3 separate regions of the Homo sapiens genome follow, and regions 1 and 2 are each reported to be linked to region 3. Evidence: microRNA targets listed by miRTarBase, many of them from high-throughput screens and not tested one by one. Region 3 holds a microRNA gene; each other region holds the end of a gene's coding sequence.
The links. The annotated mature microRNA hsa-miR-4782-5p reads UUCUGGAUAUGAAGACAAUCAA and lies in region 3 at 2,929-2,950, opposite strand. An mRNA with a match to its seed (bases 2 to 7 or 8) in the 3' UTR can be bound and repressed. Matches are read on the target gene's strand: a 7mer-m8 pairs with bases 2 to 8, a 7mer-A1 pairs with bases 2 to 7 and ends in A, and an 8mer does both.

Region 1 (4,000 bases), not on the chromosome of region 3:
GCTGCTCTGGGTTGGCATCTACGTGTGAGCACCCAAGGGTAAGAGCTGCAATGGGATGGATGCGTGAGCCTCCAAGGCACAGCCCAGGGAAGCCTCCCCAGAGTCAGGTCAGCAGGGTCCTTAAAGCTCTTACCAGCATGACCCCTTGGTTGATGGAGACAGACTCAGTGGAATGGGTAGGGACACTAGACATTTGTGCCTCTTTCCCTGCCCCTCATACGGATTTGAGCCAAATGTGACTCTCAGTTCTGAGCTCACATGGCCCAAGGCCTCGATCTGCCTTTGGGATGTACCACCTAGAAGTGTGGACGCAGGCATCCCATGGCTGTACATTTACATTCTTAGAAGTCAGACCCCAGTGACTTGGAGAGGCTGCTGGGAAGTCAGCTGGCTGAAAGGGGGTCAAGATCCAGGGCTTAAAACTTGCTGCAGACAATCCACCAAACAGGCCACTAGGAATCAGCTCTGGTGGCTCATCCTCAGAGGTGTGTGCTCAATAGCCCTTGCCCCAGGAGCACAGGGGTGCAGGGAGAGAAGGAGGAAAGAAGGGCCATTGGTCTTATTTTGATACCCCTCTCCTCTTTTAGGTAACAACCAGATGGCTTCACTGAAACCTGCTTTTGTAAATTACTTTTTTTTACTGTTGCTGGAAGTGTCCCACCTGCTGCTCATAATAAATGCAGATGTATAGCAGTCCTGTCTGGGGCCCATTCTGCAGGGGTGGTGGGTGCTGGGACCTACATTGCTTCCCCAATCTCTTCCCTTTCCCATTTCTCATCTGCCTTTCACAGTTCCTGCTGCTGATCTACTTAAGGGGGATGAGATTTGTGTAGCACCGGTGTTTTGTCATTGGAATTTAAGGCTTACCTGTGGATAGGGTCTGGGCCTACCCTTTTCTATTGTTTCTAGGACAAACTTCTCTGGGAACCCACATCGGTCCATTCTGCCCTAGGCCAGTCCCTGCCATAAACATAGCCACCATTCTCTGTGCTGGGGCATCCTCACCAGGCTCAGCTTCTCCCCCTAAGAAGGCTTTTCTCCTCAGTGGCTACTTTTAATGCAGGTGGGCAGCAGCGGGTGCGCAGGAGGGGAAGGTGTGGCCATGGGAGAGGCTGATGAGTCCACTCCTAGCCCCAATATGAAGCTAAGAGGATAAGGGGTATGAAGCATCCATTTGGCCCTCTGGTTCAGGCGCTCAGAGATTCCAGGCTTCTCAGGAAGAACTTTGAATTCCAATTGGCCCTAGCCTTATAGGTGACTCCTCTCCCACCAGACCAATCCCAAGAAGAGACAAGGAGGCAAGCTCAGATACAAAGCAGTATTTATACATTTATTTATATATGTATATTTACTTCAGAAGAAACGAACATTTCGGGGACAGGAAGCAAGCAGGCCCGGGGCTGCTTCCCTCACTGCCCACCTCAGAGTCAGAGTTGGCACATGACAAATACCAAGCTCAGGGAGAAGAACTGGGAGTTAACTGGGAAGTAGGGGGCGCTCTATGCACACGCAGGCTTCTAAGGGTGCACGGTATGGGCAGGAGGATTTGCACTGGGAGGCCCTATGTACAGCTTGAAGCTAGGGGGAGATTAGCCCAGTGACTACAGGAACAAACGCCAAAGGAGAGAGAAGAAGGGAGGGATGACCTGCTGGACCCCAGGGCAGGGACAGGGCCAAGACACTCACACCATTGCCAGCCGGGCAGCTGGCAGCTTCCAGCAGGTGGCCCACTTACCTTCCCTGAAGCCCTTTTACCACAGGCTTAAGGCAACTTTGGTCCAAGGTTGACCCCCTCAAGCAGCTTGGATCCCCAGCCTGTCCCCAACTCCTGCACTGAGGAACCCCTCCCCAGGCTTGGAAACAGAGCCAGCTGCTAACGGTTTTGGGGCTGTGCTGTGTCCAGATGGGCTCCATGGGGCAGTGGACGGTCACTTTCCAGTTAAGGACTGAGGGCCCGCAGTCCAAGAACATGAACCCCCATTGAGGAAGCCCAGGAATCCTATTACATGGAGTGGGGCTCGGCAGTTTTAAGGCATAGGGAGGATTCCCCCAGTGGGAGGGAGAACAAAGTCATCATAAGGAAGGCTCAGCCCCTGCATGGTTTGGGAATCGTAAAATTCCTATGTCAACGGAACCAAATTGGGGAGGGGGCTGGGAGCAAGCTATCCCTGCTATTCCTGCATCCCCCTGCTCTTCCCTATCCTGAGGACAAGTGCTTTGAGATCAATGGCAAAAGGGGGCCTGCAGTTCATAGGCTTCAAGGAAAGGCCTCCACTATAGAAAGGCCTCCCATTCAAAGCTGAGAATGAGTGGTGGGACAGGGGCAAGGCCTGCTTCCCAAAGAGGTGGCAGCATACCACAGGGCAAGGACAGCAATTCCCTTTCCCATTTCTGGACCCATGGCAGACATGGCTAAATGAATACTACACTCCTTCCATGAGCCTGGATGTAGCCTCGGAATGCACCAGGCACCACTAAGAAACTTGAAGGTGGCACTTAAGATACAACTTCTTCCCTAACCCAGGGTCTTGGTGGTTGGGAGTGGGATGGGTGTCGGAGGCTCCCTGGGAGGGATCAGAGTCAGAGCCCTGTCTTTGCAAGTGTCACACCCCTGCTCTGGCCCACTCTGAGCTTTCTAGCTCCATCCTTCCATTCCTTCCTGCCCTGGTTTAAGTGCATTTAGTAATTACTTCATTAATAACAGCAAAAGCTATTTGCATCTGCCCACCAGCCAAGACCAGGCTGCTGCTTGAGGGATTCCTGCTCCTCTGCTCAGAGAGAATGATGTGGTCACTGATCACTGTGAGCTCCAGACGCTCCCAGGAACGCAGGCAGTGAAGCTGCAATACCATCTGGGGGCTCAAAGGGAATTTCCTCTTCCTGGATATTCCTGGTTCAAGGCTCTAGGGCTTACCTGGCCCACTGGCCCCTACTGGTTCAGGCCTGTGAAGGGCTGAGGGTGGCTTCACCAGGCACTGAGTAGACTTAAGGCACAAAGTCAGTTTCTCCAACCCAGGCAGGGCTGGCCTCGGCTGCCCTGGGACTTCTTGGGAGCCAAGCCCTCCCAGGGAGAAGAAACCTCCTGGGCCACACTTAAAGCTTAGAAGTCCGAGTCTGGCGTAACAGGCAAACCCCAGAAAGTCCACTACCAAGCCATCCCCCAGGGAACAGCTTTAAGGGGGAGAGCCGTCTGCCCTCCATTGACTCATGGGGGTCCACCCAAGTCTCTTAGGGCTGGATCCGAGCCCCCTGCTGATCTCAAAGGTGGGCAGGTCCTCTCTCCAAAAGGGTTGGCTCCAGTCTCAAAAGGGGAGGCAAGGGAGAATGGGCTCTGAACAAATCAGGGCCACAGGCTTCCCCTTCCCTCCAGGGCACCTGAACCAGCCCTCCAACCACCATATCTGGAAAGAGGTAAACTGGTCCTGTCCTGGCCCCTAGGGGGTGGCAGGCAGGAAGGCCCAAGAAGTCTCTGGCTCTCAGGTTCCCTCTGTGCCGTGAGGGGCGACCAGCTGGAACAGCAACTCCAGTGTGAAGACTTCCAGTTTCACCAGTCTCGGGTAGGGCCAGTGAACAGCAGAGCTGGCCTGCAGCGGGCTCCAGTGTAACACCATTGCATCCAGTGTTGGGGGGTGCCTGGGCACCCCTGGTCCCTGGTGTGGTGCTGCCTCAGGAGGGCAGCTCAGTCACACAGGCGGTAGAAGTGGAAGTGGTAGTCTGTGGCTGGCTGGGCGAGAGCCTCTGAACTGCAGTTGGCCTGACCCTGGGTGGAAGGGCAGTGGGAAGGTGAGGTGGCTCTGGGGGTGCGGGGCAGATGGCACTCCCTGCTGACATTGCTTGACACTGTGCCCCCAGCCCTACCACATACTGTGCAAACCCCCCATTCCTCAAGCCCCACGTCGCAGACAGGGGTGCCCAGACCTCCAGGGTAGGTGGGATGCCCCTGCTCACCAGCAGTGCCACCCGGAAGTGGTAGGTGAATTCACGGAAGGACAGGATGGTT
Region 2 (4,000 bases), not on the chromosome of region 3:
AGGCCGGAGCTGTTGTCTCGCGTGGTTGGAGGTGGGCTCACCCAGCCAGGCAGCCTGCAAATTATTCTCTGGAGCCTCCCGGGGACAGGACACCGCCTCCCACCTCACACACCTGTGCTGAGGGCTTCCTCCCAGTTGGGAGGGGTGTGCCTGCTCCTGGCTGGATTCTGTCCCCACCCCCGGGGATGTGGCAGTGTCAGGAGACATTCTTGGTTGTCACGGCGGGTGGCGTGACTGTCATCCCGGGGATGGAGGTCAGGATGCTGCTGAACTTCCCACAGCGCACAGGACAGGCTGCGGCCTCCCACATCCGCCAAGCCTGCCACCCTGCCCTGGTTCTAGGGCACCAGGACACGCGTCCCTGGCTCACGGCCAGCCCAGGAAGCAAAGAGGCAGGCACCACGCTGGGGTTTTACCAGTTTTATTTCTAGACTTTCATGTTTGTCTTTTTGTCTTCTGCTGGAAACATGCCGGTTACATGTTGGTGCTGGGAAGCGCCGCGGTGCAACCAGAAATGCACAGACCCAGCCGCCCGCCGCCCAGACCCTCAGACTTGCGCGTCACAGGACAGACTCCGCTGTGCCCCGTGCACTTGCCACCAGCCTTTGGCCTCTCGATACACACAACATCCAGGACTTGTGCCCTTGCCCCATCACGACAGACAAAGCGTCCCTCAAGGCCCCCGCGTGGTTCAGACAGACGCCGCAGCCAGGATGGTTGAGGTAAGCGTGAGCCGTGTTCTGGAGGGGTGGGGCGGGGTGGGCCTGTGCCCGAGATGGCCTCCGAGCACAGGATGACCCTGCCAGGGCAGGGCCCCAACCACGTGGGCCCGCAGCGGGGTGCAAATTCTTTTGGTTCGGCAGCTTGCTAGGTGACCGGGGCACACAGCACTGTGAGCTGGCTTCATTGAGATTTGGAGTCTCTTTAAATTAGCATTATGGTGTAATTAACAAAACAATAACAAACAGAACACTAGTACATAACAGATTAAACATACCCAAAACTTGAACAAATTCCAGAAGCTATTCCAATCATCCCGAATGAGAGTCCTACAGGTACAACGCCGTGGTGGCACGTAAGACACACTTGTTATAATAATAATAATAATAATTATGCAACTTCCATAGCTACACGCAAAGAATAACACAGCTGTAAAAACTACTATGATGCTACGCCCCCGATCAGATGAAGTGCCCAGCATCACAGGCGCAGGGAAGAGAAGAGGGACACAGCCTGGTCTCTGGGGACACCGGCGCGGTTCTCACGCACGCGGCCTCGGGGCCGGCCCCCGCCAGCCTGTGTGGGATCGCGCCCGCGTGTCTGCCCGCCAAAGCAGGCAGAACCTGCCCGCTGGGTCCACCATGGCTAAGTGAAGCATGAGGTATTGTGAAACAGCAACCTTTTTGGAATAGAGCAGTAATCACATTAAGTCAAAATTGATCACATAAAAAAAAAAAAAACTACAAAAAAGGCATCTGTAATACAATGTTCTAAGAGAAAACTAAAACTAGTACATGGCAGTATATGACATTGTAAAACAAAAAACTGATCCTCCAATAGCAGCAAACAATGTGAAAGAGATACACAGAAGCGATGTGAATATTTCCAAACCGTGCCTGGAAGTCAACGGTAGCAGCGCAATAAGAAAATGGAGCTGCGGCCTGTCCCCGGTGTGGGCACCGCCCCTTCCCCTCGGGAGCCTCCTCCTCACACCTCCTCCCGCCTGTCCTCCCTCACACGTCAGCCTCCACACTCTTGCCACCTCCCTTCAACACTTCCTAAATAAAAATTACAAGAATTACATAGCCAAGATGTGCAAATTGTCTATTTTGTCACTAAGTTTTTTAAAGGAAGGGGCAGGGGATAAGAATTCATCGGAACCGAACTTAGGTTGAGTACCCTAATTTTCCTTGCACCCATGCCTGTCCAATCAGATGACTCTGGGAAACGCCAAACAGGCTGAATCAATGTCTTTGTGTGGTTTTTTTCTTCCAGATTGTTTTTTTCTCACCTATAAAAGGATCTATCTTTAAAAATAAACTGTATTAAATCTGTAACATCAAAGGCAGAAGGTTTGTGTGTGTGTGTGTGTGTGTGTGTATCTGTGTGTTTAAATCAAGGGGAGATTGCATTTATAAATCATACTGGCCTTATGAACATCCTCTGCAATAAATATACTTTTTAGCCTTAACTATAAATTATATATTTTAGTGTTTAAAAACCTTCCGGTGTGAAACATCTAAGATAACCCTTAAAAACCACCTGTTCTCTAGGTAAACCTCTGAGGTCCCTACTTTCAAACACCAGTTGGCACCAAAGGATTCCTAAACTTCAACTTCTTTAAAGAAAAGGAAAGGAACTTATCATCCTGGCAATGTGAGAATGCAAACCTTTTTCTTCTTGACTGGCACGCAGCCTCCCAAACACCCCACCTCCACTGCCACCACAGTGGCCCACACTTGCCTCAAAGTCCTGCTTGCAAACAAGTACATGGATATTCCCAAACCATTCCATTAGAAAACTGCCCTCCCTGCACACACAACAAAAACAGCGCTATTTCCTACACCTATTGGACTGAAAGTGCTTGGAAATGGAATGGTTTTAGAATATGAAGAAGAACACAAACCAAGTAGCTGTGGGTTGAACCTGGACGTGAGCTGGCTGCAGGGCCGTTGGGTAGAAAACCAGCATCTCATAAACAGGTCACTACAAAAATAGGAAGAGTATAAAAATAGAATATATTATGTCACTATTTCGTCTTCTCTTTATAGTAGCGTATCGTAGGAGTGGGACAGGTGGCCTTTCCCGACCCTGCTACGCTGGCTGGTGCCCGACAAACCTCCACTGGATGGTTTGTCACTGGATGGTTTGTTGGGGTGGTGGTCACAGGCGCAAAGGACATGCACACGGGCACGCTACGCTACTGTAACCAAGAGGTGACTTCAGCCATGAATAAGGTGAAGAGGTTACACATCTACCTACGGAATATAATAACATACAATGACTTATAAAGTGACTACATGCATATGAGCAAGCAAAGTACAGAGATGCCTAGAACCCCACTACAGCTGTGCTTTATCAGGAAAAGCACAAGAATATGTTTTTCTACCTAAAACCCTCTTCTACTTTAAAAATGGTTTGCTGAATTTTTCTATGTTTTTAAAATGTTTTTATGCTTTTTTTTAAACACGTAAAGGATGGAACCTAATCCTCTCCCGAGACGCCTCCTTTGTGTTAATGCCTATTCTTACAACAGAGAAACAAGTACATTAATATAAAAACGAGTTGATTATTGGGGTATAAAATCCTCTATCATCTGTAGCACAACCCTCCTCCCCCACCGCTCAGGGTTATGCAAATACTATTTTTTTTTTCTCTCTCTCTCTTTTAAAGACAGTTTTTGGGTAATCTTTTTCTTTTGCTTAAGTCAGAGATGGAAGGGGGAAAGAGCAAAGGAAAAAACAACCAACAACAAGGAGAATGAAGCTTTCCCTTCTGGTATCAAAATGCTCCGGAGAGGAGGGACTGTCAGGGGAGCACCTGGGGCCGGCTCCGCCCTCGCTGCGGGTGGCGGTGGCGCCCGCCTGCCTGGCGCCCTCAGATGTCCACGTCCCGCACGTCGGTGGGTGTGCAAGCCAGGTCCACCTCCTCCTCCTCCTCTTCCTCCTCCTCGGCGGCCTTGGGGTCCATGTTCTGCTGGGCCTGGCGCAGGCTTGACTCCAGCAGGGCTTCGATCTGCTCCTGGCAGGCCCGGAGGCAGTCCTGAGAGAGAGAGGGTGGGGAGAGGTGGGAAGAGGGGGTCCTTAGAAGGGGCCTGCAGCGAGGGCCCCTTCCCAGGTGCCATGACCCGGAAGCCTTTATAAGAGCAAGACTAAGCCAAAAACTGTCCCTCGGCCCATGCTGCCTCCTCTGAACCTGAGCGAGATGTGGGAGCTGCCATCACCTGTCAGGACACTCAGGACCAAATGCCTCCACCTCCCACCTGGTCTCTGGAGCCACA
Region 3 (4,319 bases):
AGAAATTGGAAAGAAAAACTGAGGCAATACTATTCTATCATGAATTATGTTCAAACCAATAAAAGTTTTCTATATTTAAGTTTGTTATGGCAAAACAGTAAACCTTTTGGTATTACCTGTGAATCATATTTTTTTTAAAAAAATGTAGTTACTAGGCAGGCAAATCACTTGTGGTTGGGAATTCAAGGCCAGCCTGGCCAACACGGTGAAACCTGCCTCTACTGAAAATACAAAAATTAGCTGGGCATGGTGGTGCATGCCTGTAATCCCAGCTACTCAGGAGGCTGAGGCAGGAGAATCACTTGAACCCAGGAGGCAGAGGTTGCAGTGAGCTGAGATCGTGCCATTGCACTCCAGGCTGGGCTACAGAGCAAGACTCTGTCAAGAAAGAGAAAAAAAGAAGAAAGAGAAGAAAGAAAGAGGGAAAGAAAAGGAAAGAAAAAGAGAGAGAAAGAAAAAGAAAGAAAGAAAGAAAGAAAGAAAGAAAGAAAGAAAGAAAGAAAGAAAGAAAGAAAGAAAAAGAAAGGAAGAAAGGAAGGAAGGAAGAAAGAAAGAAAGAAAGGAGAAAGAATCTTATTACCCAAAAGATCTAAACCAATTATTTTATTTTCATCTGCCGTAACATATAAGTTATCATCTTTCAATAATTCCTCACAAAATCTCTAAAAGCTAGGCCAGCATGATGCAATTCTCAGTTATCTAGCAAACACTATTTTTAAAAATGTGTATTGGGACTAAACTTACCTCTGAATTCGATGTTTTCTGCATATAAAAGCAAATATTCTTCTGATTCCCACCATCACAGGATCCCAATTATTATAATGGCATAGGAGAGTTACAATAAAAAATGAAAAAAATACAGGGATAGCTCCTGCAAAAAATAACCAAGAAAACTGCACCTAAAAATAAAAGATAGAGGAAAAAACACACCCACAATTATCATTAAGGCAATTTTCCCCTTCAATGTAAGTTTTCTATTTGTGAAAACTAGCAGGAATAAGAACAATGGGAAGACAAAATTAAACACTGACAATGTATTAAGTGTATTATTATTAAATAAGAATTCAAGACTTCAACTTACTATTCCATGCACCTAAATTACCAACAACAATAGTTCTTGCTTGGAAAATAGGCTAAAGGAAAGCCAAGAAAGCATACTTTCCATTTATAGGCATTGTACACTTAGAGTAGAGATATACAGTAGGAAACTTTGCTCCTGCACACCATGTTGCTCATTTCTTCTTCACTGTTTGCTGCCTAGTCTCAAGTGGGTCTCTCTCCCTCAGTTTCTGAAGTCATCTTCAAAAAATGTATATTTTCGTAAAAAGTTACAGTTGTAGTATGCTGTGTATGCTACAGTCCTTATGACAGTACCAAAAACAAATTAAGTGCAAATTTGACACTCAAAACTCGCTTATCTAGTAATAAATGAAAAAAGCTCAAAATGAAATAATGACCAAATAAAATAAAGAAAAAAATATAGAAATATTTTTACTAAGGAATGTTAGCCAGAGAAGACAAGCAACAAGACAAGCCTCATCAGTGATGTCAACAAGTCTGATCCTCCAATCCATCATTTATCAGAGTTGTCAAGAAAATAAAAAATATCTGTAAGTAGGGTGGAGGTATTAAAATCAAAAAGAAAAAAAAATAAGAAAAACAAATATATAAATAAAAAGAAAATAAAAAATAATGAGATGCCATCCAAAACAAAACTCATTCTTCCCTTTCACTAGTTCACTTTTACCATCTAGACTCAGCTAAAGATCAGAAACGATTGTCAAAGAAGCCTACACTGATCAACCACTGAGACTTAAGTGTAACACACAGGAGGTTTGCTTTAAAAATAATGATGAAAATAGTAACTTCTATCTATAAAATAGGAAAGGAAAACTGTGTTTGCCCTCTTTGAGAATTAAAAAAAAAAAAAAAAGGGCATGGAATCATAGGTAAGACTCCCTCTGGTGGAAAACATATACTATTCCATTTCATAGCACCATTAGTCAGAGTAAACGAGTTTTGTGAGCATAATGTCTTTTATGAGGGAACTCACAATGCATAACACAAGAATAATAACTGACAATTTTTAACATGCATGCCCTATTTCTATGGTATTCATATACAATGACTGAGTCAGCCTAAGAAGACCCCGGAAAGAATAGTCATTAAACTGAAAAGCCTTCATTTAGTTATGAAATTACCAATATATTTTAACATATTCCTGGAATATTTGCCAGAATGACTAATAATCAGGAAAAACCATGCTGCATTTAAATTATCCAAGATCAGAAAAGGTATTAAGAAGTTATAAATAATGCGATTAAAAATGTAGATATAGTTGATAGAATTATTTCATGAATATTCAACTAAAAACCTTATTTCATAACTGAATCAAAGCAAACTTAATAAAGATAGATAAAGCCCTAGAAGACTTTAGAAGGCAAGTTCACTTTCCACAATGTAGCTGTTTATATGTTGTCTCATAATAAAAAACTTCTAATTTGATTTCCAACAAGCTAAGACAAAAGAAACGAAGCCATTTATTACAACAAAGAAAATTACCTATGTAAACAAAATTTTTTTTTCTAATTCCTAAATATATCTGAATATCAAATAGAATATGATCAAGGATGCTTTCTATTATATAAAATGATTATAAATAGATTTAAATAACCAATTTGTTTCAAGCACAATGTTAATAAATGCTAACATTTCAGAAGCTATATATAAATACAGTTAGCTAATTAAACCTAAAAACCCTATAAAAGTAGATTTCTCTTATGTTTGTGTTACAGTTCTGGACACACACTGCTGCTTTTTCCAGATGGAATCTCCCTAACCTCAATCCTGACACCAACACACAGCCTGCTCCTTTAACTGACTGCCCAGTTCTAGATATGAAGACAATCAAGAACACCAAATCTTTTCTTGATTGTCTTCATATCCAGAACTGGGCAATCAGTTAAAGTTTGGTTATGTTTTTATAATTAATTGCATGTGCATACATTTCCCCGTTTTGTCTTTACCCTAAAATACTTTATTAAACAAATTATAACCATTATTGTTTGTAATGATAATTATGAAATGACTAATCATTTAATACAATTAGGTCCCCTGTGACTATTTTCTTAAAAATTCCTGAACATTAAGCTGCAATTTTTTTCAATCTACGAAAGCTTTTGTTTTTAAAATATCAGTACAATAAAGATGATTTACACAGTAGTCTACCAAAATCCTCTAACAAGTAGCACCTTCCCAGTTTCACAACCAGTTTGGTTCATATTCAGGATTATGACCTGAAGATGAAGAAGGGCCTAGATATTACTTAAATCTATAAAAGAATGATGTGTAATAATGTGCAATGTTAGTGTTATATGGAATATCCACATTCTTTGAAAATGCAAGTTATGTAAGATAATTAATTCTCAATTAAGGAAAGAATCTCAGTTCTTTAACCATGACAAATAAGAATTTACTGACCATAAAACAAAGTTAAATATCAGTAAAGAATTATTTTATAAATAAAGAGGATATAGAGCACTAAGCATATTTTGCTTTTATCTTTTTTTTTTTTTTTTTTTTTGAGATGGAGTCTTGTTCTGTTGCCCAGGCTGGAGCGCAGTGGCATGATCTTGGCTCACTGCAACCTCCGCCTCCCGGGTTCAAGTGATTCTCCTGCCTCAGCCTCCCAAGTAGCTGGGATTACAGGTGCACGCCATCACACCCAGCTAATTTTTGTATTTTTAGTAGAGACGGGGTTTCACCATGCTGGCCAGGCTGGTCTCGAACTCCTAACCTCAAGTGATCTGCCTGCCTCGGCCTCCCAAGTGCTGGGATTACAGGCGTGAGCCACTGTGCCTGGCTAAGACCTAGAGAAAAATAGGTTTAAAATTTTGATTATTGCTTGTACACATTATAAGCCTTTGGGCCTTGAAGTATTTCCCTCTTCAAATTATATTAGACTAAAACACACATACATACACACACACACACACACATACTTCTGTGACTTAGTAGTTGCAGTTAAAAGTTAAATGCCTACATATACTGAACTGTGTGATAAATGGCTATGCTCCATCTTTCAGTGCTGGGCAACAGCATACCTCTGTTCTTCCTGCTTCACCCAAGAGCACTGAATAAACTCTTCCCTTCTAGGCTGCTGGCAGAAACATCCCAGATTCTCTTTTCTGCGGTGTTAGCATTGCCAATATTTATCACAAGAATCCCCACATCCATACTAGGCCTTCAGAGAAAAGGGATGGGATACCCACTCTGCTGAGTCCAGAGAGAGATGGCTAACTTTTACTGCAAACAGCATG

Region 1: the mRNA of MYRF is a reported target of hsa-miR-4782-5p. Seed matches in the 3' UTR shown: 7mer-A1 at 2,390-2,396.
Region 2: the mRNA of CCND1 is a reported target of hsa-miR-4782-5p. Seed matches in the 3' UTR shown: 7mer-A1 at 739-745.

The regions. Positions count from the first base shown.
Region 1 is chr11:61,785,823-61,789,822 of GRCh38, reverse strand. It overlaps MYRF (myelin regulatory factor), which reads right to left. Exons shown (of 27, transcript NM_001127392.3): 26 at 3,949-4,000; 27 at 1,305-3,760. The coding sequence ends at 3,680. TMEM258 (transmembrane protein 258) reads left to right here. Exons shown (of 4, transcript NM_014206.4): 3 at 1-38; 4 at 588-874. The coding sequence ends at 28. Among named protein-coding and RNA genes, the nearest start is that of MIR611, 4.7 kb to the left of the region's middle. RefSeq lists enhancers at 3,248-3,992, 3,993-4,000.
Region 2 is chr11:69,650,880-69,654,879 of GRCh38, reverse strand. It overlaps CCND1 (cyclin D1), which reads right to left. Exons shown (of 5, transcript NM_053056.3): 5 at 406-3,762. The coding sequence ends at 3,598. Among named protein-coding and RNA genes, the nearest start is that of CCND1, 12 kb to the right of the region's middle.
Region 3 is chr2:113,718,410-113,722,728 of GRCh38, forward strand. MIR4782 (microRNA 4782) reads right to left here and starts at 2,959; the gene lies at 2,881-2,959. SLC35F5 (solute carrier family 35 member F5) reads right to left here. Exons shown (of 16, transcript NM_025181.5): 14 at 745-899.